Linked DNA regions of Homo sapiens. The protein of the gene in region 1 purifies or fractionates together with the protein of each later gene. This does not show direct contact. Each region holds a gene or a part of one and is shown on either strand. Other genes may lie near its edges.

What was found.
Region 2: the proteins of QRSL1 (region 1) and CYP24A1 purify together in Homo sapiens (affinity purification with mass spectrometry; one large-scale study listed by BioGRID and IntAct). This does not show direct contact.
Region 3: the proteins of QRSL1 (region 1) and TSFM purify together in Homo sapiens (affinity purification with mass spectrometry; one large-scale study listed by BioGRID and IntAct). This does not show direct contact.
Region 4: the proteins of QRSL1 (region 1) and FAIM fractionate together in Homo sapiens (co-fractionation; one large-scale study listed by BioGRID). This does not show direct contact.
Region 5: the proteins of QRSL1 (region 1) and NDUFA10 purify together in Homo sapiens (affinity purification with mass spectrometry; one large-scale study listed by BioGRID and IntAct). This does not show direct contact.
Region 6: the proteins of QRSL1 (region 1) and GLS purify together in Homo sapiens (affinity purification with mass spectrometry; one large-scale study listed by BioGRID and IntAct). This does not show direct contact.
Region 7: the proteins of QRSL1 (region 1) and SPECC1L purify together in Homo sapiens (affinity purification with mass spectrometry; one large-scale study listed by BioGRID and IntAct). This does not show direct contact.

Annotation. Positions count from the first base shown.
Region 1 is NC_000006.12:106,642,831-106,646,971, reverse strand, and holds part of QRSL1 (glutamyl-tRNA(Gln) amidotransferase subunit A, mitochondrial), read right to left. Parts: intron 3,979-4,141; coding exon 3,882-3,978; intron 1-3,881. UniProt on the Homo sapiens protein: Allows the formation of correctly charged Gln-tRNA(Gln) through the transamidation of misacylated Glu-tRNA(Gln) in the mitochondria. The reaction takes place in the presence of glutamine and ATP through an activated gamma-phospho-Glu-tRNA(Gln).
Region 2 is NC_000020.11:54,171,087-54,175,977, reverse strand, and holds the start of CYP24A1 (1,25-dihydroxyvitamin D(3) 24-hydroxylase, mitochondrial isoform 1 precursor), read left to right. Parts: upstream 1-1,991; 5' UTR 1,992-2,398; coding exon 2,399-2,656; intron 2,657-2,878; coding exon 2,879-3,069; intron 3,070-4,307; coding exon 4,308-4,401; intron 4,402-4,891.
Region 3 is NC_000012.12:57,785,629-57,789,769, forward strand, and holds part of TSFM (elongation factor Ts, mitochondrial isoform 2 precursor), read left to right. Parts: intron 1-534; coding exon 535-663; intron 664-1,411; coding exon 1,412-1,534; intron 1,535-4,141. UniProt on the Homo sapiens protein: Associates with the EF-Tu.GDP complex and induces the exchange of GDP to GTP. It remains bound to the aminoacyl-tRNA.EF-Tu.GTP complex up to the GTP hydrolysis stage on the ribosome.
Region 4 is NC_000003.12:138,628,799-138,632,939, forward strand, and holds part of FAIM (fas apoptotic inhibitory molecule 1), read left to right. Parts: intron 1-308; coding exon 309-358; intron 359-4,131; coding exon 4,132-4,141. UniProt on the Homo sapiens protein: Plays a role as an inducible effector molecule that mediates Fas resistance produced by surface Ig engagement in B cells.
Region 5 is NC_000002.12:240,007,900-240,012,040, reverse strand, and holds part of NDUFA10 (NADH dehydrogenase [ubiquinone] 1 alpha subcomplex subunit 10, mitochondrial isoform 1 precursor), read left to right. Parts: exon of another isoform or gene 1-344; coding exon 345-424; intron 425-4,141. UniProt on the Homo sapiens protein: Accessory subunit of the mitochondrial membrane respiratory chain NADH dehydrogenase (Complex I), that is believed not to be involved in catalysis. Complex I functions in the transfer of electrons from NADH to the respiratory chain.
Region 6 is NC_000002.12:190,887,023-190,891,163, forward strand, and holds part of GLS (glutaminase kidney isoform, mitochondrial isoform 1 precursor), read left to right. Parts: intron 1-4,141. UniProt on the Homo sapiens protein: Catalyzes the first reaction in the primary pathway for the renal catabolism of glutamine. Plays a role in maintaining acid-base homeostasis. Regulates the levels of the neurotransmitter glutamate, the main excitatory neurotransmitter in the brain.
Region 7 is NC_000022.11:24,315,587-24,319,727, forward strand, and holds part of SPECC1L (cytospin-A), read left to right. Parts: intron 1-4,141. UniProt on the Homo sapiens protein: Involved in cytokinesis and spindle organization. May play a role in actin cytoskeleton organization and microtubule stabilization and hence required for proper cell adhesion and migration.

The DNA.
Region 1 (4,141 bases):
ACTGCAACCTCTGCCTCCCGGGTTCATGCCATTCTCCTGCCTCAGCCTCCTGAGTAGCGGGGACTACAGGCGCTCGCCACCACGCCCGGCTAATTTTTTGTATTTTTAGTAGAGACAGGGTTTCACTGTGTTAGCCAGGATGGTCTCAATCTCCTGACCTTGTGATCCACCTGCCTCGGCCTCCCAAAGTGCTGGGATTACAGGTGTGAGCCACCGTGCCCGGCCAAGTCTATCAATTTTTTAAGTGGATTTGTGCTTCATGTGTCCTATCTAAAAGAACTCTGACTAATTCAAGGTCACTAATACTTTTCCCTGTTTTTTTTAATTTTTTTTTTCTGTAGAGACAGGGCCTCACTATGTTGCCCAGGCTGATCTAGGACTCCTGGGCTCAAGCAATCCTACTGCCTCAGTTTCCCACAGTGCTGAGATAACAGGCATGAGCCACCAGGCCCAGCATCCCCTACATTTTCTTGAGTTTTATGATGTTAGGTTTTACTTTCTTTATCTCTTATCCTGGAAGATTTTCACAGCCCTTTTTTTGTTTTCATATGATATTTTAATAGAATGGTTCTCATTTTGGATTTATCTTTTGTTTCCCCATTATTAGAGTCAGCTTACACATTCTCAGCTGGAATATTACATAGGTGATATTGTATCCTCAGACAATTACATCTGGAGGCACATAACGTCCACTTCACCCTCACTGGTGATGTTAATTTTGATCAGCTGATGAAGGCAATTTCCTGAAAGCCTTTGTTCAAATATACTCTCATGGATTAGTTCATTCAACATATATATAATGAATTCCAAGATATACCACTCTGAACTATACACGCAAGGACTCTTGTTTCTATGAAACAGAGAACAATGACCAAGCAAATATTACAAATGTGACAAGTGTCATAAAAGGGTAAGTATAAAGTACTTTTGGTGAAAGACTGCTGTTCCCTAAGATCAAGATCAAGGCAAGGAAATCTGCTCTCACCACTTCTATTCAACATTGCACCTAAGGCCCTCACTGGTGCAGTAAGGCAAGAAGAAGAAATAAGACTAACTCTATTTGTAGACTACACAATTTGCTACATAAAATATTCCACAGAATCCACAAAGATCAACTAGAACTAATAAGCAAGCTTTAACAAGGTCATGGGATAAAAGGTCAATATAGAAAAATCAATTATGTTTCAATGTACTAGCAATAAACAATTAGAAACTGAAAAAAATACAATTTTCTATAGCATTAAGAAACATGGCTGGGGGCGGTGGCTCACGCCTATAATCCCAACACTTTGGGAGGACGAGGCGGGCGGATCACAAGGTCAGGAGTTTGAGACCAGCCTGGCCAATATGGTGAAACACTGTCTCTACTAAAAATACAAAAATTAGCCGGGCGTGGTGGCATGTGCCTGTAGTCCCAGCTACTCAGGAGGCTGAGGCAGGAGAATCTCTTGAACCCAGGAGGCAGAGGTTGCAGTGAGCCGAGATTGCACCATTGCACTCCAGTCTGGGTGACAGAGTGAGATTCTGTCTCAAAAAAAAAAAGAAAAGAAACATAAAACACACGAATAAATCAAATTATATGTACAATTTATATGCAGGAAATCATAAAAACATTCCAGAGTAAAACAAAATGTATGAGAAGACATGTATTATGATGCCGATTCTTTCCAAGTTGATCTATAAATTCAACACAATCACAATCAAAATCCCATTAAACTTGTTTGTAGAAATTAGCAAGCTTATTCTAAAACATATCAGAATATAACAGATCTAGATTATGTAAAATGATTTTGAAAAAGAAGAACAAAGTTAGAAGACTCTTACTACATAATTTCAAGGCTTACTATAAAGCTATAATAATCAAGATGGTGTGACACTGGAATAAACAGAGATGCAACAGAGTCCAGAAACAGACCTACTGAATGTGCTTGATTCTTGACAAAAAAACCTAAGATCATTCAACAAGAAAAGGATAATCTTTTTTATTATTAGTGCTGGAGTTAATGGACATCCATATGTTGAATAAATGGACTTTATTCATACTATATACGAAAATCTAATTCGAAGTGAATAACAGATCTAAATGTAAGAGCTAAGACTATAAAACTTCTAGGAAAAAATTCTTTGTGACCTTTGTTAGGTAAAGATTTCTTGGCCAGGCACGATGGCTCACGTCTATGATCCCAGCACTTTGGGAGACCAGGCGGGCAGATCACCTGAGGTCAGGAGTTTGAGACCAGCCTGGCCAACGCGGTGAAACCCCATCTCTACTAAAAATACAAAATTAGCTGGGCCCGGTGGTGCGTGCCTGTAATCCCAACTACTCGGGAGGCTGAGGCAGGAGAATCGCTTGAACCTGGGAGGCGGAGGTTGTAGTGAGCCGAGATCGTGCCATTGCACTCCAAGCACTCCAGCCTGAGCAACAAGAGCACAACTGTGCTTCAAAAAACAAAAAACAAACAAACAAACAAAAAAGATTTCTTAGGACACATGAATCATAAAAGAAAAAAATTCAGCCAGGTGAGGTGATGTGTGCTTGCAGTCCCAGCTGCTCGGAAGGATGAGGTCAGAGGATCACTTGATGCCAGGAGTTCAAGACCAGCCTGGGTAACACAGATAAACCCCATCTTTAAAAAATAAAGGAAAAAATGGGCCTGGCACAGTTGCTTTTGCCTCCCAACACTTTGCTGGACCAAGCTGGGAGCACAGTTTGAGTCCAGGAGTTTGAGATCAGCCTGGGAAACCCAGTGAGACCCTGTCTATATGAAAGGAAGAAAACAAAAGGAAAGAAAGAAAAGAAGGCCGGGCGTGGTGGCACATGCCTGTAATCCCAGCACTTTGAGAGGCCAAGGCAGGTGGATCATCTGAGGTCAGGAGTTCAAGAGCACCCTGGCCAACATGGCGACACCCAATCTCTACTAAAAATACAAAACTTAGCTGGGAATGGTGGGGCATGCCTGTAGTCCCAGCTACTTGGGAGGCTGAGTCAGGAGAATCGCTTGAAGCTGGGAGGCGGAGGCTGCAGCGAGCCGAGATCGCACCATTGCATTCCAGCGTGGATGACAAGAGCAAAACTCTGTCTCAAAAAAAAAAAAGAATGAAAAGAAGAGAAAAAAGAAAAAAATTGATAAACTGGACTTTATCAAAATTAAGAACTTTTACTCTTTGAAAGGCATGTTCAGAGAATAAAAAGATAAACCAGAGACTTGAAGAAAATATTTGCAAATCAGCACCTATCTGATAATGGATTTGAATCCAAAATATATGAAAGAATTCTTTTTTTTTTTTTTTGAGACAGAGTTGCACTCTTGTAGCCCAGGCTGGAGTGCAATGGCGCGATCTCGGCTCACTGCAACCTCCGCCTCCCGGGTTCAAGCGATTCTCCCGCCTCAGCCTCCCAAGTAGCTGGGATTACAGGCATGCGCCACCACACCCAGGCAATTTTTGTGTTTTTAGTAGAGACGGGGTTTCTCCATGTTGGTCAGGTTGGCCTCGAACTCCCTACCTCAGTTGATCCACCTGCCTCGGACTCCCAAAGTGCTGCGATTACAGTCATGAGCCAGAAAGGATTCTTACAACTCAATAATAAGATGACCCAATTTCAAAAAATGGGCACAGAATTTGAAAAGCTACTTCACTGATGAAGACATAGGGATGGCAAAATAAACACATGAAAAGATGTTTAACATTATTAGTCATCAGGGAAATACAAGCCAAAAGCAAAATTAGAGATGACTATATATCTATTAAACAACATAACATAATCTCACAGAGGGACTAAGAAACTGGCATTAGATCCTCAATCCTTTTAGGTAACTACATTTAGTGAAAATAAAGGCACAGACAGAAGAAACTCAAGAGAAGATTTCAATTTTACTTACCCCATAGCAAACTCATCTAAATTTGTTTTTCCCATTAGTAGAGCTCCCTGATCCAACAACTTCTGAACTACTGTAGCATTATAAGGTGGTATATAACCTGAAAAAAATTTAGTTACTATTATTTTTTTTACAGTCCAGAAGTCTTTTATTTGTTTATACCTATTATGCCATGAATTCACAGGGAATAGGCTCCAACAGCTCAGGAGCCTTCCCATTGGTTCTCACACAGTGCGCTTCTCTGGGTGGAGCAGGCTGGCACG
Region 2 (4,891 bases), on another chromosome or scaffold:
GATTACAGGCGTGAGCCACTACACTCAGCCAGAGCTATTCTTTTTCACCACCGTCAGCACATAAAACGTTTGCCTCACACTGCCCCACACATACTGACATGGTAGGCATTCTGATCCCCCCCACTTTCCTCTTGGTGATAATTCTCATTTAAGAAATACTTCCAATATTCTGAGACACTCTGGTTTAAGAAAAAGTGACATAACATAGCATGATGTATATGGGTGTACTATTTAGGGCCCAGCCTAGAATCAGAAAATATTGGGTCTGAATCCCACCTGAGCCAATGGTAACGTCTGTGACATTGGGCAAATTACTTAGCTCTGTAAGAGTCAAGGGTTTTTTTGTTTGTCTTTGATTTTTTTTTGTTTTTTATTTTATTTCATTTTATTGACATTGGGCTGAGATGAGAACTAAACGGAAAAAATGATGTAAAATGTCTAGCTCAGTGCCTGACTTATCATAAGCCCTAGAAAGCTTTCATGAGAATATTATATAACATATGGAATCTACATACTGTATGCAATCTATACTATATTATGTATATTTAGTGTGTATTGCATATAACATAATCTATAGTGTATGCTGTAACATATATACCATACAATGTATATATAAATATGTACAAGATTCATAAAGTTTAGTATATATCAATAGCTATTATTTTTATTAACATAAACAGTCATTAGCCCCTCCAGACAAATCAGAAATGATGGTGTTAAAGCTTAAGTTGGACTGCAAAAGATTTTTAAGAAACAAACTAGAGGCTTACAAAAGAATTTACCAGGGAAGGATTTGCCAACACTTGGGGCAAAAATGACTGAGACACGTAATTGAAAAGCAGGGCGAGGAAACAGAATGTCCCTCCCCTCCTCCCTGGCTGGTGGTAGTTTTGTATTGGATCAGGTTGAAAGGATTCGAGCCACTTTAAAACAATCAACAAAAATCTCCAACTTCCGTTCCTGAATTAGCAAAGCGAGTTCTACTCTTGCCAGCCGCGGTAACTCTAGAAATTGTGTATGTTTGTCACTGGACCTGCCTAGGACGCACCTTGGGGGAGAGGGGGAGTACTGGGGGCGGTGGTTTCAAGCTCTGTGTGCCCCTCCTTTGCACAAGGTAGTCGGTGTAGAAGAACAGAGGCGGGCAGTGGACATAGGGGAGGTGGCCCAGCCTGAATTCAAGCATCGTTGGTGCAAGCCACGCTCTCAAGGCGCATTTCCTAACTTCCTAAAGAAGTAACAACAGCAACTAACTTTTATTGACTGTTGACTATAGACAAGGCTTCGTTGTTGCCGCTTTACGTGCATTAATTCATTTAATCTGCAAAACAACCAAACATGAAACAGCAGGAAGGAAATTCTACAAACTCCCCTTCTTGCTCAAGTTAAGAAAGTCTCCTCTTCTGGTGCATTTCAGTAAGACTCAAATCCTCCCCACCCTGGGAGGCGCAGAAAGCCAAACTTCCTCCAAAAAAAAAAAGGCAAAAAAAAAAAAAAAATCACTTCAGTCCAGGCTGGGGGTATCTGGCTCCCCGGGAGGCGCCCGGGCTCCCCGGGGCCCTGGCAGACGCCGGCAGCTTTTCTGGGCCCGCACTCGGGGACCTCGCCCGCCCGGCATCGCGATTGTGCAAGCGCCGGGCGGCAACCACGGCCGCCGCTGCCGGCTCCTGCCCGCCGGGGGAGGGCGGGGAGGCGCGTTCGAAGCACACCCGGTGAACTCCGGGCTTCGCATGACTTCCTGGGGGTTATCTCCGGGGTGGAGTCTGCCGCCCCCACCCCACCTCCCGCGCCCAGCGAACATAGCCCCGGTCACCCCAGGCCCGGACGCCCTCGCTCACCTCGCTGACTCCATCCTCCTTCCACCCCCCCTCCCCTGGGTCCCGCGTCCCTCGGAGTCTGGCCAGCCGGGGGCCACTCCGCCCTCCTCTGCGTGCTCATTGGCCACCCAGGGCATGCTCTGTCTCCATAAATGCATGGTCCCTGGGCATAGGAACATGGAGAGGGACAGGAGGAAACGCAGCGCCAGCAGCATCTCATCTACCCTCCTTGACACCTCCCCGTGGCTCCAGCCAGACCCTAGAGGTCAGCCTTGCGGACCAACAGGAGGACTCCCAGCTTTCCCTTTTCAAGAGGTCCCCAGACACCGGCCACCCTCTTCCAGCCCCTGCGGCCAGTGCAAGGAGGCACCAATGCTCTGAGGCTGTCGCGTGGTGCAGCGTCGAGCATCCTCGCCGAGGTCCTTTCTGCTGCCTGTCCCGCCTCACCCCGCTCCATCACACCAGCTGGCCCTCTTTGCTTCCTTTTCCCAGAATCGTTAAGCCCCGACTCCCACTAGCACCTCGTACCAACCTCGCCCCACCCCATCCTCCTGCCTTCCCGCGCTCCGGTGTCCCCCGCTGCCATGAGCTCCCCCATCAGCAAGAGCCGCTCGCTTGCCGCCTTCCTGCAGCAGCTGCGCAGTCCGAGGCAGCCCCCGAGACTGGTGACATCTACGGCGTACACGTCCCCTCAGCCGCGAGAGGTGCCAGTCTGCCCGCTGACAGCTGGTGGCGAGACTCAGAACGCGGCCGCCCTGCCGGGCCCCACCAGCTGGCCACTGCTGGGCAGCCTGCTGCAGATTCTCTGGAAAGGGGGTCTCAAGAAACAGCACGACACCCTGGTAAACCCCTTTTCGCGCCCCTGACTCTCTCCTCCCTCTTCCGCCCTCCCAGTGGCGCTCCAAACCCTCCCCGACATGCGCGCCTCGGGCGCATGGTGCGCTTCGGCGTCTGGGCAGGGAGGGTCCCCGGTCCCCTAGGAGGAAGGAGGCGGGAGGAGGGAAAGCGCTTCGGGCACGGCGGAGGATGCGCGCTGACACCGCGCTGTGCCCGGCCGGCTGCAGGTGGAGTACCACAAGAAGTATGGCAAGATTTTCCGCATGAAGTTGGGTTCCTTTGAGTCGGTGCACCTGGGCTCGCCATGCCTGCTGGAAGCGCTGTACCGCACCGAGAGCGCGTACCCGCAGCGGCTGGAGATCAAACCGTGGAAGGCCTATCGCGACTACCGCAAAGAAGGCTACGGGCTGCTGATCCTGTGAGTCCAATCCGAGGGACCTGGGCATGCGGCCAGACCTGATGAGCCTGACGGCGCCTGGAAATTGTGAAGAGGCGGAGTTAGAGTTCCCTGGGGTTGGAAGCTTCTTACGTAGGGCGGATACCAAAGCCCCTCTCCCGTGCCATCGCAACCCTGAGCTCTTGTACAGATTAGAGTCGGTCCACGGAAAAGCCGTGCTGTGCACCCAGCACCTGCGTTCTCTCTGGCAACAGGGCAGGGCCACACCCTCCCATCAAAGAAACGCCAAAACAGGGTTGTACCAACTGTGGTGTTCAGACTCTTGGGCAGGATGAGGTTCTGAAGTCAGCGTACCAGGCAAACATCTTATACAAACAAAATTATCCCTTAAAACTCCCTGAAACACCTTGTAAGCTCAAAAGCGAGGAGTTAGCCTCTTTGGCTTTTTACAGTGACATTTTCTGCAGAGGATTGGGGGACATGCCTTATTTCTACTTGTAAAGGTGGAATAAGGAGGGATATCAAAGTTGTGTTTTAGGTCGACAAATGCTACTATGGGATGTGATTCTTCTGCTTTTTAGTTGTTAGCATTTAACAAGTTAGCACCTTTATTTACCCCCAAACTGTAATGCCTAATCGTTATATTTTCCAGGATATAATGACTGGAATTAAAAACCCTATTAATTCACGGTGCTTCACAGGCTGTATGGTCTGCTATGGGGCAGGTGCCTACAAGTGCACGATCGCAAAAGGCTTTTTATTACTCCAGTGACTCTCTGACTGTATGTTATTATTTGGAGGCGATGGCAAAATTCTAAATCTGAGATATTTTGTAAATATGAAGCCCACACCAATGAGTTGAAAGAAGACAAGATTCTTCCCTCAAACAGATCTGAGTTGCTGGTGATGGGGTGTTCACATGCCCCCTTTTACCGCTAGGAATTGTCCCCAGGCCTCCCAGCCCCACTCCCTGCAAGGACACCTCAAAATCCCTGAACCCAAATTATCTGGACTTCAACTTTTTGGTGCAATCTTTGACTAGGAGGAAAGGTGCTTTTTCATCCTATTGTCAAACTATTGTCAAAAGATGATCACTATTTTATCCCAAATATTCTGATGCTAATATTCTCTGGCTATTTCTTGGCATGATTCTCAGTGTTTGTTTGATTTTATGGTTCCTGAAGTTGCAGCTGGAGTATTTCTGCATCTCCTTCTTTTCTTTTCAGTGTGCTCTAAATGTATTCCTGCTTCTCTCACAGGGAAGGGGAAGACTGGCAGCGGGTCCGGAGTGCCTTTCAAAAGAAACTAATGAAACCAGGGGAAGTGATGAAGCTGGACAACAAAATCAATGAGGTCTGCAGGCTGGGGCCAGCTTTCCTGGGGCTCGTGGGGACATAGGGATATTGGTGGAGCTTCAAGTCACAGCTACAAAGAACAAAGGAAAAAAGAATGCAATTCGGGTGATTCAAAGTGGGGGTCTTCTCTTTCTCTCCATTCCTTCCTACAGCCTCCTCCCCACCAAACCCTTATTTCTCCCTCCTCCACCCTCTTTTAAAGTCATATCACAATGAGGGAGCAATGGAGAGTGTGGACTTTGGTATTCTACAGCCCTGGATTTGAACCCCAGCTTTCCACTCCCTGGCTATGAGACCTGGCTATATACCACTTACCTTCCCTAAGCCTCAGTTTCCCCATCTACAAAATGGGAGTAACAGTTCCCACCCCACGGGTTTGCTGTGAGAATTAAATGAGATAACATTGTAAAGTTCTTAAGTAGTGATATTTGAGCTGGGTTTTGCAGGAGGAGTCTGAAAGCAGAGAAAGTGGGGGAAGGCATTAAGGC
Region 3 (4,141 bases), on another chromosome or scaffold:
AGCATATGTATTATAGTAAATACATAAGCCAGTAACATAGTTGTTCATTATTGTTTCAAGTATCATGTACTATATGTAATTGTATGTGCTATACTTTAATAGGACTGGCAGCACAGACGTTTTCTTTACACTAGCATTGCCACAAACATGTAGGTAATATGTTGCCCTACAATGTTAGGAGGACTACCGTGTCACTAGACAATAGGAATTTTTCAGCTCCATTATAATCTTAGGGACCGTCATCATATATGCAGTCCGTCATTGTCCAAAATATCGTTATGTGGTGCGTAACTGTATAAAGAAAATACAACTGTGTGCCCCATAGGGTTGTTGTGAAGATTAGATTCATCCAAGGCACCAGTTATAATAATACCTGGTATTTGGCATTTAGTGGTAGACTGCCAGTAAATGATAGATTACTTTAGTTTCTGTTAGAGAATTTAGAGAATCAGGAAACCTGAGTATATCTTAGAACTACATTTAGTGCTAAATTCTGTGACTTTGTTGTCTGCTCTTTTTCCTCTCAATTTACAGGCAGAGATCTGGCTCCACAAGGAGGCCCAGAAGGAGGGCTGGAGCAAAGCTGCCAAGCTCCAAGGGAGGAAGACCAAAGAAGGCCTGATTGGGCTGTTGCAGGAAGGAAACACAACTGTATTAGTAGAGGTGAGTTGTTGGAAATTCCAGATACCAAGAACAGCTGTCCCTTGGGTGTAAAGCTTGTAGTAGGCCCTAAAGGGGCCTGTTCTTGAAGAAGAGATCTGTTTAAGAACCATAAAGCGTAGTTGAAGTTAAACTCATGAAACCCTGGGTATTAGTTACGAATTCGTTTAAGTATAGAAATGTACTGGTGTGTTGATGAGAAATGGCCTGACAGTCTAGAATATTACTCCTGAATGTGAGTCTGGCACAGGCTTACACCTTGTCACTGATTGTTTCCTGGAACAGTTAGATTACAAGTTAATTATATTAATTGTTGCTGAATAGAGAGTAGGTATTTTAGAGGAGGTTTGGGGGCCATAATTGGTGAAGAGTCAGATGTGGATTAGTTTAGAGTGAGAGATGGGGATAAACAAGATAATAGCATAAGTGGTTTGGAGTTGGGATGGCTGGAGAATGAGGTGATGATGGTGTGCAGACATAGGTAAGTGGTGAACTTGTGGTGAGTCCTTCAGGACATTATTGAACCATCTTCTGAATATACAGGCTATTGCTAACTCACTGGCCCAACATAAATCACTTCATTCTGTTCCAGGCTAGGAGAGGAAGCGTAGCTTTAAAATTTTGGAGTCATTTTTTTTCCGTTGAGTCTGTAGCTTGTTCTATCAGTATCTTGATTTATTCTCCAGCCTTAAGGCACTTTTGGAAATTATCATTAAACAGCTTATACAGCTATATCAATTTGTTCCCACAGGTAAACTGTGAGACAGATTTTGTTTCTAGAAATTTAAAATTTCAACTGTTGGTCCAGCAAGTAGCCCTTGGAACCATGATGCATTGTCAGACCCTAAAGGATCAACCCTCTGCATACAGTAAAGTAAGTTTGGGATTTGTCTCCAGTGTGCTGAATTTGCTGTCCTCATTGGGTCTTTTGCTGTTCCTATTGTAGACATTCTCATGTCTCATTCTGTTACTTCACATCTCTGCTTAAATGCTATCTCTTTGCATAGAATTACCCTTCCCCCGTTGCTATATCCCCGTGTCATGCTGCATTTAAAATTTTTTATTATGGTGCTTATATATTACATTTTAATTTATCTGTGTGTTGTCTATCTTCCCCAGCAGAATGTAAGCTTTATGAGGCAGGGAATTTGTCTTTTCACTGTTGTATCTCTGGTGAAAGAGAATTGGGCCCACTACTTAGTTGGAGCTCAGTAAATCTTTGTCAGATGAATGAATGAATGATTGAATGCATGCATGCCAGTGAAATGGAGTTAGCCAGATCAAGTGAAGCCATTTGAGGCTTTGTGTTCAGAAATTTGGAATGGTCTTAGGAAAGAATTTCTAAATAAAGAGATTGGAGCCAGGTGTGGTGGCTCACCCCTGTAATCCCAGCACTTTGGGAGGCCGAGGCAGGCAGATCACCTGAAGTCGAGAGTTCAAGACCAGCCTGACCAACATGGAGAAACCCGTCTCTACTAAAAATACAAAATTAGCTGGGCGTGGTGGCGCTTGCCTGTAATCCCAGCTACTTGGGAAGTTGAAGCAGGAGAATCGCTTGAACCCGGGAGGTAGAGGCTGCAGTGAGCCGTTGTACTCCCCCCGGGCAATAAGAGCAAAACTCCGTCTCAGAAAAAAAAAAAGAGAGAGAGATTGGAAAAGACATGGTTTAGGAAAATAAGCATATTCTTATCCATAGAGGGATCAAGGAAAGGAATTATGTCATTCTGCCTTTGACTCAGCCTTATTGCCAAGGCAAAGATGAACCAACCACTCACAGTAATTTTTTTGAGTTTATTACCAACTTTTTTTATCTTCTTTATCCTTCTCTTGAGATGTCTTGGTAAATGTTAATTATTATTGGCATTACATAGTCATATGGAAAACAATGTTGAGATTATTTTTTTTAATTGTATTGAGTAGGTAAGTCACTTGAACTAGAAATTTTAGCTTTGATTTTGCCAGTAAACACCAGTGTACCCTTTTTTTTTTTATTTTTGTTTTTGTTTTTTGAGATGAAGTCTTGCTCTGTCACTCAGGCTGGAGTGCAGTGGTGCAATCTTGGCTCACTGCAACCTCCACCTCCTGGGTTCAAGCAATTCTGCATCAGACTCCCGAGTAGCTGGGACTACAGGCGCCCGCCACCACACACGCCTAGTATTTGTATTTTTTGTAAAGACAGAGTTTCACCATGTTGGCCAGGCTGGTCTTGAACTCCTGACCTCAAGTGATTCGCCCGCCTCCGCCTCCCAAAGTGCTGGGATTACAGGCGTGAGCCACCATGCCTGGCCCCAGTGTACTCTTTTTCCAGATTTGCCATTTATTAACATTTTGCTGTATTTGCTTTATCACTTCTTTTTTTCTTTAAGAGACAGATCTGGCTTTCTTGCCCAGCCTGGAGTGCAGTGGCACAATCATTGTTCACTGCTGCCTCAAATTCCTGGGCTCAAGTGATCTTCCCACCTCAGACTCCTGAGTAGCTGGGACTACATGTGCACACCACTATGCTAGGCTCATTTTTAAGTTTTTTGTAGAGACAGTCTTGCCATCTTGCCCAGGCTGGTCTCAAACCTCTGGGCTCAAGAAATCCACCTGCTTTGGCCTCCCAAAGTGTTGGGATTATAGGCTTGGGTCACTACAGCTGGCCCTATCACTTTTTATATACATGTTATCATCGCCCTTTTTTTTTTTTTTTTTTGAGATGGAGTCTCTCTGTCACCCAGGCTGGAGTGCAATGGTGCCATCTCGCTCACTGCAACCTCTCCCTCCCAGTTCAAGCGATTCTTCCACCTCAGCCTCCCAAGTAGCTGGGATTACAGGCACCTGCCATCATGCCCGGCTAATTTTTTTTGTATTTTTGTAGAGACGGGAGTTTCACCATGTTGGCCAGGCTGGTCTTGACTCCTGACCTCAGGTGATCTGCCCACCTGGGCCTCCCAAAGTGCTGGGATTACAGGCGTGAGCCACTGCACCCGGTCATCATCACTGTTTAAAAAAAATCTTTTTGTAAGTATGTTGCAGACATCAGGATCCTTTATTCCTTCAGCATGTATCTCGTAAAAACAAGGACATTGTTATATAACCACAGGACAGTGATCACATTTAGGATTTTTTTTTCTTTGAGACGGAGTGCAGTGTTGTGATCTCAGCTCACTGCAACCTTCACCTCCTGGGTTCGAGCAATTCTTATGCTTCAGCCTCCTGAGTAGCTAGGATTATAGGCATGCATTACTACTTCCAGCTAATTTTTTTGTGTTTTTAGTAGAAATGGGGTTTTGCCATGTTGGTCAGGCTGGTCTCGCACTCCTGACCTCAGGTGATCTGCCCGCCTTGGCCTCCCAGAGTGCTGGGATTACAGGCGTGAGCCACCGCACCCAGCCAAAATGTGTTAGTTTTAGTAGTTGTCATTCTACTGTTAGAAATAAATTTCCCTTCTCATTTTTATTTAGTGATTTATTCAGCACTAACATTGACTCGTGGGTTC
Region 4 (4,141 bases), on another chromosome or scaffold:
TAAAGATTGTCCTTTTGGATTCATTTTGTTTCATAAGGCTTCATCAATTTGTATTAAGACCATAACTTTCTCTTAAAAGGTTGTTTTGTTTCATTATAGTTTTATGAACAAAGAACAAACACAGCTTCTTCAAATTTTAGGAGAGTCTGCAAGCCATGAAAGCCATGAAAAAGTGTTGGGTTTTGGAATATTAATGGAGTTTTAGAGATCTGGTATATCAATCCTTTCCTAAAGTAATAAATAGGAAAAGTTAACTTTATCTTTAAATCACAGAATTATAACTTAAAGTTTTTATGTTACCTTTACAGAAAAAGATGCTATGGACGTATGGTGCAATGGTAAAAAATTGGAGACAGCGGTAAGTTGACTATTTGATGACTCTAAGTGCCATGTGTCTCAGTTACCATTGAATTGTTGCTGCATTTCCTAATTATAGAGATCTTATAATGAATCAAGGCCCTCTTGATAAAAACAAAAAAGGGATTAAGTACTCCTGACTTCAGATTCTGAAAACCTTTGCCAGATGGTGCCTGGTACCGTGAGTTTGGAAACAACTCATGTTCTTAGCTGGCACTAGCTTCATACTCTCCCTTTCCTGTCCTGGACCAGGCTCCAGCATAGCAAGTAAAATACCTAAAAAGAGCCCCTAGTTAAAAAATTATATCCCCAGAGGTTGGTGTCCTCTTGTGTTGATCCATTTGAAGTGGTGCGTTATCACTGCTTCTCAAACTTGCATGCACAGAAATTGCCTGGAATCTTGTTAAAATGCTAATTCTAACATTTCCCTAGGTGCTGCTAATGCTACTGGTCCACAGATCACACTTTAGGAATGCTTTACACCATACACTCAAAGCAGATGGTTCTTTTCTGAAAGCGAGATTTTTGTAAAATGAGTGATACAATATCAGATGACACGAAGGTAGACGAACAGGAAAGGGCACTCTCACGAACCCCGGAGGACAAGTGGAATTTTAGACCAGCAGTGCCAATGCGAGGAGAAAGAGGCTCCCCCAGTCACTGTGGCCAGGCACACTGAAATCCCCATCTAGATAGACTCCAGTGTGTTTGACTTTTGCTATCAGGTGCTTGGATTACTATGGCTGTGGATGGGATGAATGTAGGAGTGAATTTCAAGCAGGAGTGAAACAGTAGTAGTGTGCACAGGGGAGAGAGTGGGAAACAGAAAGTGTGGGACTAGGAGCCGAAATCACTGGGTGGTAATCCCCATGTCTTATGGGGTCTGTGGGCCAAGCAGGGAGTGCTATCCCTGGGACCCACCTTTCATGCTGGCTCCAGATGTGAACATCAGGGCTAGAGATAATCGGAAGCTCTCTTCTCTGGTCACATTTTGCATGTTGTAGTTGCTTTTATCTCATTTGTATAGTATAGGTTTAAGACAGTGAGAAAAGGTGATTTTGGTAGTTGGAGGAAAGGAGGTCTGGGATTAATTCATTCAGAAGACCACCTAGAACCTACTTGGTCTGATAGCTGTTTCTGAGGAGGTGACAAAACCAGAAATCAAAAATTACAAAGATGAAGCCACACGTGGTAGCACAGGTCTGTAGTGGCTTCCTACTTGGGAGGCTGACGTGAGAGGGACCCTTGAGCCTAGGAGTTTTAGGCCAGCCTGAGCAACATAGTGAGACCCATCTCTAAAAAAATTAATCAATCAATTGAAATTTAAAAGTTACGAAGATGAATGCTTTTCTGTTTCTGAGTCCTGAAGAATTTAATTTGGGCTCACTCTAAATTGAGTGCTTGAGCTGTTCTCTGGGTTAAATCTACTGATAGAGACTTCTTTTATGCAGAGAGGCTTGGAGAGTGCTTCAGTATTTTATGGCCCCCTTTGGAAAAACTCCAGTTACCACTAACATGGATCAGATACCTACTGTGTGCCCAATGCCATACCTGGTGGTTCTTCCTGTTCTTTTTTTCCTACCCTGGAATTCTCTAGATAGGGAATCAGCACTTTTGAATTGCATTTCCTCCCATATTCAAGAAATTCTCCAGTGCACATGTAAAGAGAATGCTGTTTTATGGTATTAAGAATATGGTTGTACTGGGCGAGGTGACTCATGCATGTAATCCCAGCACTTTGGGAGGCTGAGGCGGGCAGATTGCTTGAACCTAGGAGTTAGAGACTAGTCTGGGTGACATGGCGAAACCCCTCTCTACTAAAAATACAAAAATTAATAGAGCATGGTGGCACATGCCTATAGTCCCAGCTACTCAGGAGGCTGAGGTGGAAGAATTACCTGAGCCCAGGGAGATTGAGGCTGCAGTGAGCCAAGGTTGCACCACGGCACTCCAGCCTCGGTAACAGAATGTGAGACCCTGTCTCAAAAAAAAAAAAAAAAATGCAGTTGTAACTTTGGGAGGCCAAGATGGGAGGATCATTTGAGGCCAGGAGCTCATGACCATCCTGGGCAACATGATGAGGCCCTATCTCTATAAATTTTTTTTTTTAAGTTAGCTGTGTATGGTGGTGTGTACCTGGTCCCCGCTGCTCAGGAGGCTGAGGCAGGAGGACTGCTTGAGCCCAGGAGTTCAAGGCTGCAATGAACTACAGTTGTACCCCTGTACTCCAGCCTGGGTGGCAAGAGCAAGACCCTGTCACACACATACACAAGGAATGTTGTTGTGGTTGTAAAAAGGTGAAAATAATATTCATCCACATGTCTTTGTTTTGTAGTAATTAACAGGAAACTACATGTGTTTGGAAATAGCTCTTTATAACACAGTTGCCTTCTCATTGTAACTACAACCTAGTTTGCAGGGCAGTTTGGGCAGCCCCATATCTAGGCAGCCTTCCCCAGTACTGTACGTACCCACAACAAACTCATCTTGTTGCCTGTGAGTTACAGCTTATTTTCTCCTTTTTATCTCAAAGCATCGTGCCAAAATTATATATTTGTCCAATTGCCAAGAAGCTACGTATATAGATTGTATTACCTAACCCTTGCCCTTTCTTCCGAAGTCTTTTTTCAAGGCTCAATATTAAAAATGGGGACAAGAACACACTGCACCCAAGGACATGCTTGTGGTATTCAGCATACCTCCCATAAGGAGCCACGGGCCACATCCTTCCCAGAGCTAGGAAAAGGCTTCTCTCCCTGAGGCATCCTGTGCCTTCTTTGGCTTGGTTTGTTAACTGGGGGGCCTTGTTCTATCTACTTTGGCTGCCAGGAAGCTAATAGCCAGGGGGTTTAAGTCTGATTTTTGGTTTCTTTGCTTTCTGGCATAAATCTTTTTTTTATCCTCTAAGCCTCTTCTTTCTTCCTTCCTTCTCTGCGCTACCTGGCGCTAATCTTTTTACTCTAGATCACTGCTACTCAATCAAAGCATAATATGAGGCACAGATAGGACCTTCATGTGTAATTTTAATTTATCTAGTATCCATATTTGAAAAAATTTTAGGTGAAGTTAAATATTATATTTGATTTAAATCAATATACCAAAAATAGTATTTAACATGTAATCAGTATAAAAAGTTATTTTATACATTTTTTTGTTTCATACTAGGTCTTCTAAATCCAGTGTCTATTTTATATTTAAACAGCATATCTATTTTCAGACTAGTCAATTTGAAGTGCCCAATAGCCACATGTGGCCAGTGGCTACTGTATTGAACAGAACAGGTATAGATTTAGTGGTGTTTGGTTTTGTTATATGTATATTTTACTGTAAGCCACCTTATACCCAGAGGAATCAGATTTTCAGAGTGGCTAAGAACACTCCATCCCTGGCTGGATGCAGTGGCTCACACCTGTAATCCCAGCACTGTGGGAGGCTAAGGTGGGTAGATCACTTGAGGTATATTATAAATAACTAATAAATGTCATATTTATCATTTTTATTTTTGAAAACATAGACACATAGTCATGAGGTTTATATTCCTCCCCCAAGAATTTAAGATTCTTAAGGATTGTAGGGGTTATGAAAAGGAAACTTTCAATTCATAACAGAAATGTAAAAGCATCTAAGTACAAGCTTTAGACTTTGTTTTTCAAAGCTTATTGTTTAACTAATACATTATTTTATTGCACTACTAGTACTTTTAGATGGTGTGAATGCTCTAGACAGAGATAAAAGTTTCTGCACCACTAATTCCTTCTTCTTTTGTTGCTCCAGGGTGAGTTTG
Region 5 (4,141 bases), on another chromosome or scaffold:
TTTGGTGCTCTTTCATTCCTGCACTCAGGCACGAGGCAGACAGGAAAGACAGGCAGTGCTGCTTCGTAACAGGCATCTTTCTTGCCCTAAGTATACATCTTAGAATGTGTGGAGAAAGTCACGCTATGGGAGCACTTGGGCAGGCTCAGGTGTTCACTGTAGTAGAAGGAGAATGACTCTAGCTGATGTTGGGACCCTTTGCTGTCACCCCGCAGTCCCCACAGTGCCCGGTGTGAGTTGTAAGAAAATGGTGGTCAGTGATTGTCTTCGCATTTTATATACGCACAGGTCAAAGAGAATGAACTCTAAATGTTTCCCAGTTTGATTTTTCTGCTTCTGTTTAGCCACATGAAATGAAGATCACCTCTGCCTATCTACAGGACATTGAGAATGCCTATAAGAAAACCTTTCTCCCTGAGATGAGGTGAGCCAAACACACGACTGATTTACAGGGCTAAAACTTCTTCGCCACTCGTTTCTTAGGCCCCAACAGCCCAGGGAGTTTTCTGTCTTATTTACTGCAGTGGATATTGTCTGAGATGTTTAATCTGATGTTTATAAATAAGAAAAACAGGAGACATTTCAGTTTGATTTTTGTGGGGTTTATTGGTTTATTTGTTTTGGTTTGCTTATCTTGTCAGTACTTTTGCTCTGCTATATTTCTGAAGTTTTTTGATGCTAGAAGTAAACCAAGCTCTATTCCATGACAGGTTTTACCATAGAGAACTTGTGTATTTTTACTTCAGGTGGCAACTAAACATTCGTGTTTACCTAGAAGGATTGATTGGAAGTGTATTCATGGAGAAAATTCATGAAAGATAACACTTTCTCTAGACATTCTTAATTGATGTCCTTGAGAGATGTTTGGATTAGATGAAGGAAACACCACCAGACTGTTTTTCTTTCTTTTCCCCCTTTCTTTCTTTGTTGAAAGCACATGGAAAATGTGGTTTCACTCATCCTATGGCTTGTCATTCTGCGCTCCTTGGGTATATTCGTGTGTAAGGAATGTCTGCCACACTCATTCACGTCCAGTTAAACTCAGATTGTTTGAATAATGCTTGAATTGAAGATTTTTATACTATTTCTCATACTTTTTAAAACCCTAAGCCTCTTTCGGTGCCTAAAAATCTCATGTTCTTGTTGTTTAAAATTTCAAAGTAACTGAAGTTGTGAATAAAAACAAAAGTATAGCAATTTTAGAAAAAAAGTTTTATTTTTACATTTATTTTAGTTAAATACTGAATATTTACAATGAACAGCCTTAGAAGATAATATTGTTAGACCATAGGTAATAATAAAATCAAAAGTGAATAAGAGAAATGTTCTATTCAGGGAGTTTTTTCTGTACCGTAAGTATTAACGTTTATGTCATCTCTGCTTGTTTGTGGTGAGCGTTTCTTTCTTAGGTGGTAAGAAGACTGGGTGGCCTCTGGCTTCCTTTTAACCTGTTGTACTGCCCTATTTCCAAGGCCACAATACCAAGGGAAGTATCTAGAGCCAACGTGAATAAACAGCATAAACAGAGATAGTTGACCCTAGAGTTTCAGGCTCAAAAATTACTCTTGGAGATCTTCTGGCTTCAAAAACATCACTGAGAAAGAGCTTTGTCATAATTTCTCAAATGGAGTTTCTAGCTACAACATCAGCAAAATAATGGCTGGTTTCAGCCTGTGCACAGGGCAAGAGTTTCTTTTACTTTGCCGCCCTCATAGACTCGTTAAGCCTCAAGCATTTATTTCTTACCACTTGGTCTTGCTGTGTTTTTAACTCCTGTTTTAGGAACAGATACAGTCTCTGTTCATTGTTAAAGTAGATCTTATCTGACAGCTCAAGCCGTATGGATTGATGGGAGCCACTTGATGTAGGGGTCATTTGTCACACATTGAAGAATGAGTACCAGATGTACTCTATGCAGTATGCATTATTTTAAGTGCTGAATTGTAGACCAAGATCAAACTGCAGCTTTGTGATGGACTTGGATCTTAAAAGTTTTCTCATAGAAATTCACTATGAAATTTGGCTGAAACTATTTTTTGTAAAATTGCAAGAAACCTATGACGAGTTGTATTTTAAAATTTATTGGCCATTAGCATTTTAGAATTCAGGAGTTATTTTCCAACAGAAACAATATTAGGTTTCCCGGGCTTGTATATTTAAACCATTGTTTAGTTAAATACTGAATATTTTTATTGTTAGATCTTAGGTTAGACCTTAGAAGACAATATTGTTAGATCATAGATAATTAATAAACAGTAAAATCAAAACTAAATAAGAGAAATGTTTTTAGTTTTAATACTAGTATTTGAAATAAAGCAGATTGACCTGACAAGATGATGGCTCCGTTGAAGTTCTGTGTCTCCTGTCTTTGAGCAGTTCCTCCTGTGTTAGCCCTTCTCTCTGTCACGTGCTGATACATGGTGATGCTTCACTGTTTTTGTATTTGTTGCTTATGAATGCATAAAGAGCATTGCAGCCTTTTCCAAAATATTTGTATTGTGGGATTTTAAGAGGTACAATGAGCTAACTCTCATAGGAATGTGTATTTTCTGGCTTTGTCAATATTTATGACCCAGATCTTAGGCGTACATGTCTTTCTCCTCATTACCTTAATTGTGAATGTGTTAATGAGTATCAACTTAGTTTCACCAACATTTGGCCATTCCCGCGTTCAACATATACTTATTTACTCAGCTCCAACACTGCTAGCTCCCAGTGTCAGTGTTAGCTGAGACACAGAGGTACACAAGACAGAGTAGGGAAGGCCTTTCTGAGAAAGAATCGTCACCTCTGAGATTTCAGAGACAAGAAGAGGAGCACTGAGTGACCAGCCTGACATGTAGCGAGTTTTGTAACTGTCTTTATTGTTTCAGATTGTTCTAAGGTGGGTGAGGAGCTGGGGAGGCTCTGGAAGTATTGAAATAACTTGGGGGTTCAGTAATACAGCTTGTGGCTCTCCTCGGCCCTGAGCTACCTATAGGAATAACCACCATTGAGGTTGCACGTGAACTGCTGGCCCAGCCCTTTATGGGGGTTTCCTCCAGATCCCTGACTCCACACTTGATACCTTCTTATTTTAGGCCTCCTTTCACAAGGCAGTGGGAATGAGAGGCAGGTGTGACTGGACGGAGGCGGTTTTATTTGTCTGTTGCCGAGGTTGTTAGCATGCTGAATGGAGGCGCACAGAAGATAGAAAATGGACTCTCCAGGTTGCTCTCATCAGGTAGTTTGGGGTCTGGAGCTCATTAAGGGCAGGAGCCCTGTCTTCCCCACCTTCCATACCCCACACAGCACCTGGCTCCTGGTGGGGCTTCAGCTAATGTCTGTTCAGTTATGTGTGTTGAACGAAACTGTCACATCGTCCTGATCTCTCATGACCACTCTTGTGCAAATATGTCAAATAGTTTGTGACCTTTCATATTGCTGTGTGAGAACAAATAATGTTTCTGTGCCAGCCCTGTTCATCAGGGATGTTTAAGACCTCTGTCTCCTATACACTTCAGTTGAATATTCACTTAGGTGACTTGCAGAGGGAATTATTCTCCTTTGTCACTTTGTGCCTTTCTCTTCGTATTAACAATGGGTAGCTGTAGAGGTTCAGGAAGCAATACAGCAAGTCCTGTAATTAGTGTGGCCTTTTCCTTGCCAGCCCTAATGGCAAATGCAGTAAGTTACTTTCCTCACTATGGATTTATTGTTCATTCTGCTTGCAGTTTCTGACCATTTATGTTGATCTTAAGGGTGCTGTGAGGAGTGCAGTGATCTCGTTGCAGTAAGAATCTGTTATCCAGTTGTATGACTCTGAATTGTGAGTTATAGACTTGTGTGGAACAGATGTGTTACTGAGTGATTGTAGAGCTTGAAGACTTTTTTCTTTTTCCTACACTTTGGAAGTGATGTGAGTCAGTAATGATGAGACTTAATAAAATACAAGCACTTTACCTGTACTACGTAATTTAATCAACCAGTGGTCTGTTGAAGATGGTCAGCAGAGTTGGTGAAGTTTGTTTGGTACCATTGTAGGGGTCAGATGCTGATTTCAGTATGAGAATAAATAGCTTGTACATTCTTGGAGTATTTACTTACCCTGTATGTTTACATCCTAAATGTGTGGAGGGTGCTCTGGTGTAAAGATGCCCTC
Region 6 (4,141 bases), on another chromosome or scaffold:
TAGAATTTGTGTGAGGGAGCTCAATCATGTTAAATCCTATATAAATTAAGGTTATATTTTATAGTTGCCTGTCTGTGCCTTTTCACCTTTAAGTCATTTGCTAGTAAGAGAAATGCTTAAGAAAGGTGAGTAAACAGATGTATTTATAAAAATAGTTATTAATTACTGATATCTCTCAGTGAGGTACATAGCTTTCACATAGAGATACTGTTAGTACAGTTTTACCCTGAAATCTACTCAGGTGCAAAATTGCTTTGGTTATGAAACACATTACTTGTGAGTCATCACTGCACTTAGTGATTTTCTGACCCCCTACAACGTAGTAGAAGCAAAATGTTAATGTACCTTGACTTCCATTTGGGAGTGTCCTCTGCTTGATATGTTAAATTCATTATAAAGAAATGTTTATAGTAAAAGCATTACTTTCGAAACATAGAACTGTAGATGTTGCATAATGAATAAAACTGATAGCTTTCAGGATTAAGAAATATATTTTTGCCTATTTATTTCTGGTACAGGCTTCTAAAAAAGATTTTTAAAATTGTCTTCTTGATGAGGATATTTTGAGTGACATAGACCCGTCCTTCAATTCTTGATGGTAAACTTTCTGAAGAGCAATTTTTAAGCTCTATGAGGAACTTACAAAGTATTCATACCTTTTTAGGAATCTAAGTTCACAAAATAAACTGAAGTGTTAGAAAGATTTATTTCCTATTATTTTTGGTACAGTGTTATGCATACTAGAGAAAAATGGAGAAAAACGCATGTTCAACATTAGTGGGATAGTTAAGTAAATTGTGGTACATTCATATGAGGGTCTCTTATTTAGTCATTTAAAATGTTTGCAGGTACTTTTTAGGATATAAGGTAATGTTATAACGGCCAAAAGTTAGAATACAGAATTTTCTATGCAGTATGATCTCAAGCTATTTAAAAAGCTCAGAAAAAGTAATAGAAGGAAATAAGCCAAAATGACATTAGCAGTTGTGGTTTATGAGAACGAGCATTGTTTTTCCTGCCTCCTTTTGTTACTTTTAAGATTTCCCCCCCATTATAAGTGGGAAACGTCTAAAACAGTAAAAAACATTCCATAGTTTTGAAAATCAAAGGAACCACATCTGTTAAGTTTTGAACTTGTAAATCTCTACTGTCTACTCTTCTAATATCCTGATTCTGGTTGTATAAGAACAGTAAGCACCATTACATTGAAAGAAAAGTATGAAAATAGGTTATGTATGAATTTGCACAGCTCCTGTTTATCAGCATTGTCTAATCATATTCACTGGTACCCTTAAACATCAAACTTTAAAAATTTAAAACTATGCTTGATATATCTCCCTAGTAAATGTTACATATTTCTCTGCCATATTAAAACATTGTAATCAATAGAGTTTAACATTTCTTGTTCAACTTATGTGTATTTTAAGGATGCATTATTATACTGCACTGTAATACAGTGATGCTGTAAGACAAGTGCTGGCACACTTTCCCTGAAAGGCCAAATAGTAAATATTTTCAGCTTTTGGGGTTCTCTAGTCACTACTACAACTTCTCAGTTCAGTGGTGGTAGCAAAATAGCTGCAAACAATAGGTAAATAGATGTGGCAGTCTTCCAATAAAACTTTATTTACAAAAAGAGGAGGTCCCTGCTGTAGTTTGCGTAGCCCTACACTAAAATATATTTATTGGTAAGTTCTCTCATGCCTTGATTGGTTCTGCTTTAACCAGTACTCTTAAGGGTGGGTTTGTTCTTTTGTGGATTTTTGTATCTTGTATCAGTTGACTGTTCTTCATGTCTCTACTTTAGCTATCCTCCTTCACTCTTACCTTCTGTATCCAGTTCTGCTTAGCTTTTTCAAAAAATTGTGGTTAAATATACATAACATAAAAATTACCACTTTAACCATTTTTAAGTTCCCTAGTTCAGTGGCATTAAATACTTCTGTTAGTTTTAGAACCCAGATGAATATGCTAATGTGTAAAATAAAAGTATGTAAGTTGTGAGTGAATAAAGTTTATGATCTCACTTTAGTGTAGTGATTTGGAGGACATCTATTTTTAGCAACTCAAAAACTGAGAATTAAGCTTGGAAGTAACTTTAAAGAACATTTAATTCCAGCTCATTTTACGTATTATATAAGCTGCCCGCAGATATTAAATGACCTAAACAAGTTCAGACAGTATTAGGACTTGTTTTGATTTTTTATTTTTCATCTATTAGCAGCAAACTAATTCAATTTATAGAGTTAATTTTTTTAGATTGAGGATTATAAGAGATCTTACAAACCCTTCTCCCCAGCTGCTGCTTTCTTCTCTTCTGTTACATACTCCCTATAGGTTGTTGTTATTCATCTCTACCTGAATACTGCCTTCACAAGGGAGTTCACTCCCTTAGAAGGCAGCCCATTCCGTTTTCATAGCTGTTTCATTTTTCCTTATGTGTGGCTGAAGTTTTTCATTAACTTCTACCTATATATGTTAGTTATTCTGAACAAGTTGTCTATAGTGGTATCAGAGTGATTGCAGTGACAGAATTCATATAGTATCTGTATTATTCCATCTAGACTGATATATTAAAGGATACTTGGCTGAAGAAATGAGTTATTGGAAAAACTAACAGAGTTGGATGTTATAGACTTGATCTCCCCAGATCCTAGTCTTCCCACCCGAGACAGCCAGACTGCCTTTTGGGTCAAACTTCTGAAGTTGTGCAAACGTATGGACAAATTACCATGAGCTGACAGGGGCAGCCTGACCATTTCCTCACATAAAGTGGCTTTTGTGCTTTTTACTTTGGTGTGCTATTAAATGAATTTGTGCTATAAAGTCCAGTCAAAACAGCAGCACTAATTGAATATAATCTCATCTTTGCTTTGACAGGATGCAGTTTTATCAAGGCAGACCAGTTTAGTTCTCTTATGTGCATTTTGGTTAGAAATTTATTATTGTTTAAGAATTACAGATATTATTCCTAAAATAGAGTGCTAACCACTGAGAGCATGAGGTGGCAGAGCAGGAAGAGTCTGGAACTGGGAACAAAGGATGAGCTTTGTAGGACTAATTCTGGTCCAGCCACTTAAGATTTATGTGACATTGGACATTCTGCTTGACTTGGATACTCTTAAAACAAAATTTTTTTTAAATTTAAAATTTAAATTAACATTTTCTTTCTTTTTTTAGAAATGGAATCTTGCTGTGTCACCCAGGCTGGAGTACATTGGTGCCATTATAGCTCACTGCAGCCTTGAACTCCTGGGCTCAAGCAGTCCTCTTGCCTCAGTCTCCCAAGTAGCTGGGACTGTAGGTGCATGCCACCACACTCTTCTAGGACTCTCTTTTATCTGTACACTGGGGACAATTAACCCACCTTAATTTACCTCATAGGGTTTTAATATGATAGAAAGTGAGAGTCCTTTTTTAGCAGTAAAGCCTTAAAAGATGTAAGTTTTTATTTTTAAATTCAACCAATGATTAGCCTTGGGGCAAAATCACTTGGATGATAACTAGAATTTGTCAATTTGTTAGACTTAACATTCATTCTCATATGCTATTTTACTATATGGTCAGCCACCATCAATTCAACTTTCTATCTAACAGGTTTATTAATCTGCCAGTTTGCTGGTGTTGATAGACGGTTGTTATCAGTCAGCTCACTATAAATTCAAAATGATACACTGATTTTAAAACAACCCTGAATTATCATCTGAAGGATCATTATTCTTAAATGAAGGCATAAAGACTAGCAAATCCTTTTGTATTGTGTTATTATTAGGCCTCATTTTTTTTAATCCCACTTGAAAAGACAGTTTTTCATTGTCTCATAGGTTTACCATACTATACTATGTGTTTTAAGAGTTATGCGAAAAAAAAAATAAGAAAGACTTGACCCCAGCCTTGAAGCTTTATAGTTTGGGGAGGTTAGGTAATATGAAATGTTATTTAACAAAATAAGACCATACAGTTGGTTTCAATTATTTTCCTCTGTTCATTTTGTAGTTCTTAGTAAGGATTTTTTTTTTATTTTCTTCCTTTCATTTGATAGTTTTTTATTTATAAGATTTTTGAACTGATGAAGATGAGTTTGCCTTGTTGCTCCTAATTACAGATTAGAAACTTTCTTGATTTCCCCTACCGATTAAGG
Region 7 (4,141 bases), on another chromosome or scaffold:
TTAGAATTGTACTGGGAGAGATTCCATGTGTTTGTATACTTAGTTTCTTACTGACTGATGCTACCTGACCTCAGGATTCAGTTATCACCTCTCTGGATTAGCTGCCCCAGTATGGCTTTGTACGTTTATTTTATTTTGCTGGGGATGTCATAACAAAATACCACAGACTGGATGGCTTAAGCCACAGAAATTTATTTTCTCAAATCTGGAAGCCAGAAGTCTGAAATGAGGGTGTTAGCAGATTTACTTTCTCCTGAGATCTCTTTTTTGTCTTGCAGATGGCTGCCTTCTCTGTGTCTTCCCTCTGTGTGTGTGTCCTCATCTCCTCCTCTTACAAGAACGCCAGTCATGTTGGATTAGGGCCCACCCTAATGACTTCATCTTACGTTAATTACCTCTTTAACTTCATTATCCTGTCTCCAGGTGCAGTCACATTTGAGGTTTTGGGGTTAGGGCTTCAACATATTAATTTTGTGTGTTTTGTGCGGGCACAGTTCAGCCTATAACAACATCCTTATTCTTCAGTTCATCTGCTCTACCTTTACCTCCTCCAGTGACTTTCCTAAGACTGTTTGATTTCCATGTATCAATTCACTTGTCTTTACCTCAGATTATTCTGTCTACTCATTACAGTAATCCAGAGAAGAATTTTTCTTCTTTTATCTTTCAAACATGAACAGATTTTCTTTTTATTTATTTATTTATTTATTTATTGATCATTCTTGGGTGTTTCTCGCAGAGGGGGATTTGGCAGGGTCACAGGACAATAGTGGAGGGAAGGTCAGCAGATAAACAAGTGAACAAAGGTCTCTGGTTTTCCTAGGCAGAGGACCCTGCGGCCTTCCGCAGTGTTTGTGTCCCTGGGTACTTGAGATTAGGGAGTGGTGATGACTCTGAACGAGCATGCTGCCTTCAAGCGTCTGTTTAACAAAGCACATCTTGCACCGCCCTTAATCCATTTAACCCTGAGTGGACACAGCACATGTTTCAGAGAGCACAGGGTTGGGGGTAAGGTCACAGATCAACAGGATCCCAAGGCAGAAGAATTTTTCTTAGTACAGAACAAAATTAAAAGTCTCCCATGTCTACCTCTTTCTACACAGACACGGCAACCATCCGATTTCTCAATCTTTTCCCCACCTTTCCCCCCTTTCTATTCCACAAAACCACCATTGTCATCATGGCCCATTCTCAATGAGCTGTTGGGTACACCTCCCAGACGGGGTGGTGGCCGGGCAGAGGGGCTCCTCACTTCCCAGTAGGGGCGGCCGGGCAGAGGCGCCCCTCACCTCCTGGATGGGGCGGCTGGCCGGGCGGGGGGCTGACCCCCCCAACCTCCCTCCCAGACGGGGCGGCTGGCCGGGCCGAGGAGCTCCTCACTTCCCAGTAGGGGCGGCCGGGCAGAGGCGCCCCTCACCTCCTGGACGGGGCGGCTGGCCGGGCGGGGGGCTGACCCCCCCACCTCCCTCCCGGAGGGGGTGGCTGGCCGGGCGGTGGGGCTGACCCCCCCACCTCCCTCCTGGACGGGGCGGCTGGCTGGGCGGGGGGCTGACCCCCCTACCTCCCTCCCGGACGGGGCGGCTGGCTGGGCAGAGGGGCTCCTCACTTCCCAGTAGGGGCGGCCGGGCAGAGGCGCCCCTCACCTCCCGGATGGGGCGGCTGGCCGGGCGGGGGGCTGACCCCCCCCACCTCCCTCCCGGACGGGGCGGCTGGCCAGGCGGGGGGCTGACCCCCCCCACCTCCCTCCCGGACGGGGCGGCTGGCCGGGCAGAGGGGCTCCTCACTTCCCAGTAGGGGCGGCCGGGCAGAGGCGCCCCTCACCTCCCAGATGGGGCGCTGGCCGGGCGGGGGGCTGACCCCCCAACCTCCCGGACGGGGCGGCTGGCTGGGCAGGGGGCTGACCCCCCCACCTCCCTCCCGGACGGGGCGGCTGGCCAGGCAGAGGGGCTCCTCACTTCCCAGTAGGGGCGGCCGGGCAGAGGCGCCCCTCGCCTCCCGGACGGGGCGGCTGGCCGGGCGGGGGGCTGATCCCCCCACCTCCCTCCCGGACGGGGCGGCTGGCCAGGCGGGGGGCTGACCCCCCCATCTCCCTCCTGGACGGGGTGGCTGCCCGGCAGAGATGCTCCTCACTTCCCAGACGGGGTGGCTGCCGGGCGGAGGGGCTCCTCACTTCTCAGACGGGGCGGCTGCTGGGCGGAGGGGCTCCTCACTTCTCAGACAGGGCGGTTGCCAGGCAGAGGGTCTCCTCACTTCTCAGATGGTGCGGCCGGGCAGAGACGCTCCTCACATCCCGGACGGGGCGACAGGGCAGAGGCGCTCCCCACATCTCAGATGATGGGCGGCCGGGCAGAGACGCTCCTCACTTCCTAGATGGGATGGCGGCCGGGAAGAGGCGCTCCTCACTTCCTAGATGGGATGGCGGCTGGGCAGAGACGCTCCTCACTTTCCAGACTGGGCAGCCAGGCAGAGGGGCTCCTCACATCCCAGACGATGGGCGGCCAGGCAGAGACGCTCCTCACTTCCCAGACGGGGTGGGGCCGGGCAGAGGCTGCAATCTCGGCACTTTGGGAGGCCAAGGCAGGCTGCTGGGAGGTGGATGTTGTAGCAAGTCGAGATCACGCCACTGCACTCCAGCCTGGGCACCATTGAGCAATGAGTGAAGGAGACTCCGTCTGCAATCCCGGCACCTCGGGAGGCCGAGGCTGGCAGATCACTCGCGGTTAGGAGCTGGAGACCAGCCCGGCCAACACAGCGAAACCCCGTCTCCACCCAAAAAATACGAAAACCAGTCAGGCGTGGCGGCGCGCGCCTGCAATCGCAGGCACTCGGCAGGCTGAGGCAGGAGAATCAGGCAGGGAGGTTGCAGTGAGCCGAGATGGCAGCAGTACAGTCCAGCTTCGGCTCGGCATCAGAGGGAGACCGTGGAAAGAGGGGAGAGGGGAGAGGGAGAGCCAGATTTTCTTTTTTATAAGGATTTTTGATTTAGATAAGGATGTGGTACCACTTGCAGAACTAGGGAAAGGAATTAATGTTGGGGAAAAAAGTTACCCCAGCCAGGTGCGATGGTGCACGCCTGTAATCCCAGCACTTTAGGAGGCCAAGGTGGGCAGATCACTTGAGCCTAGGAGTTCAAGACCAGCTTGGGCAACATGCCCAATGTGGTGAAACCCCGTCTCTACAAAAAATACAAAAATTAGCTGGGTATGGTGGCGTGTGCTTGTAGTCCTAGCTACTCGGGTGGCTGAGGTGGGAGGATCACCTGAGCCTGGGAGGTAGAGTTGCCGTGAGCTGTGATGGCACAACTGCACTCTAGCCTGGGTGACAGAGCCTCAAAAAAAAAAAAAAAGTTATGCCATCTTTTTCCATTTTTGGCCTCCGTATACAGTTGTTTATCCCAGTCTGGTTACTCTTGCCTTTGATATCTGTCACAGATTTCTTGCCTCTTCTCTGTTCTTACTGCCGCCCCTGAATGTGGGACCTCTTTTACCTCATTGATCTACCTGCCCACATTCCTCCTCTGCTGCTCTGCTTTCTTCCTTATGTATTCCACTTAGAATCTGTATTAGTCCATTCTCATGCTGCTGTAAAGAACTGCCCCAGACTGAGTAATTCATAAAGAAAAGAGGTTTAATTTACTCACAGGTCCACAGAGATGGGGAGGCCTCTGGAAACTTAGAATTATGGTGGAAGGGGTAGCAGGCACATTCTTCTCCACATAGTGGCAGGAAGGAGGAGAATGAGAGCCAAGCAAAGGGGAAGCCCCTTACCATCGGCTGTCATGAGAACTCACTATCACGAGAACAGCGTGAGGGTAACTGCTTCCATGATTAAATTACCTCCCAACAGGTCCCTCCCGAAACACATAGGGATTATGGGAACTACAGTTCAAGATGAGATTTGGGTGGGGACACAGCCAAACCATATCAGTATCCTCTAGATTAATTTTCATAAAATGTACTTTTCCTTACATTTCTTTCCTACTCAGGATCATTTATTGACTTAGTGTGACTCACTGAATTCTGCCTATCTTTTGGGACTCTATATGAACATTCCCCAGCAGCTTCCGTTAACTGTGTGACTGTACTTTTCCTTTCTGTGTGCCATGTTCACTTCTGCTTCCTTTCGTTGTCTGTCTTTTTGC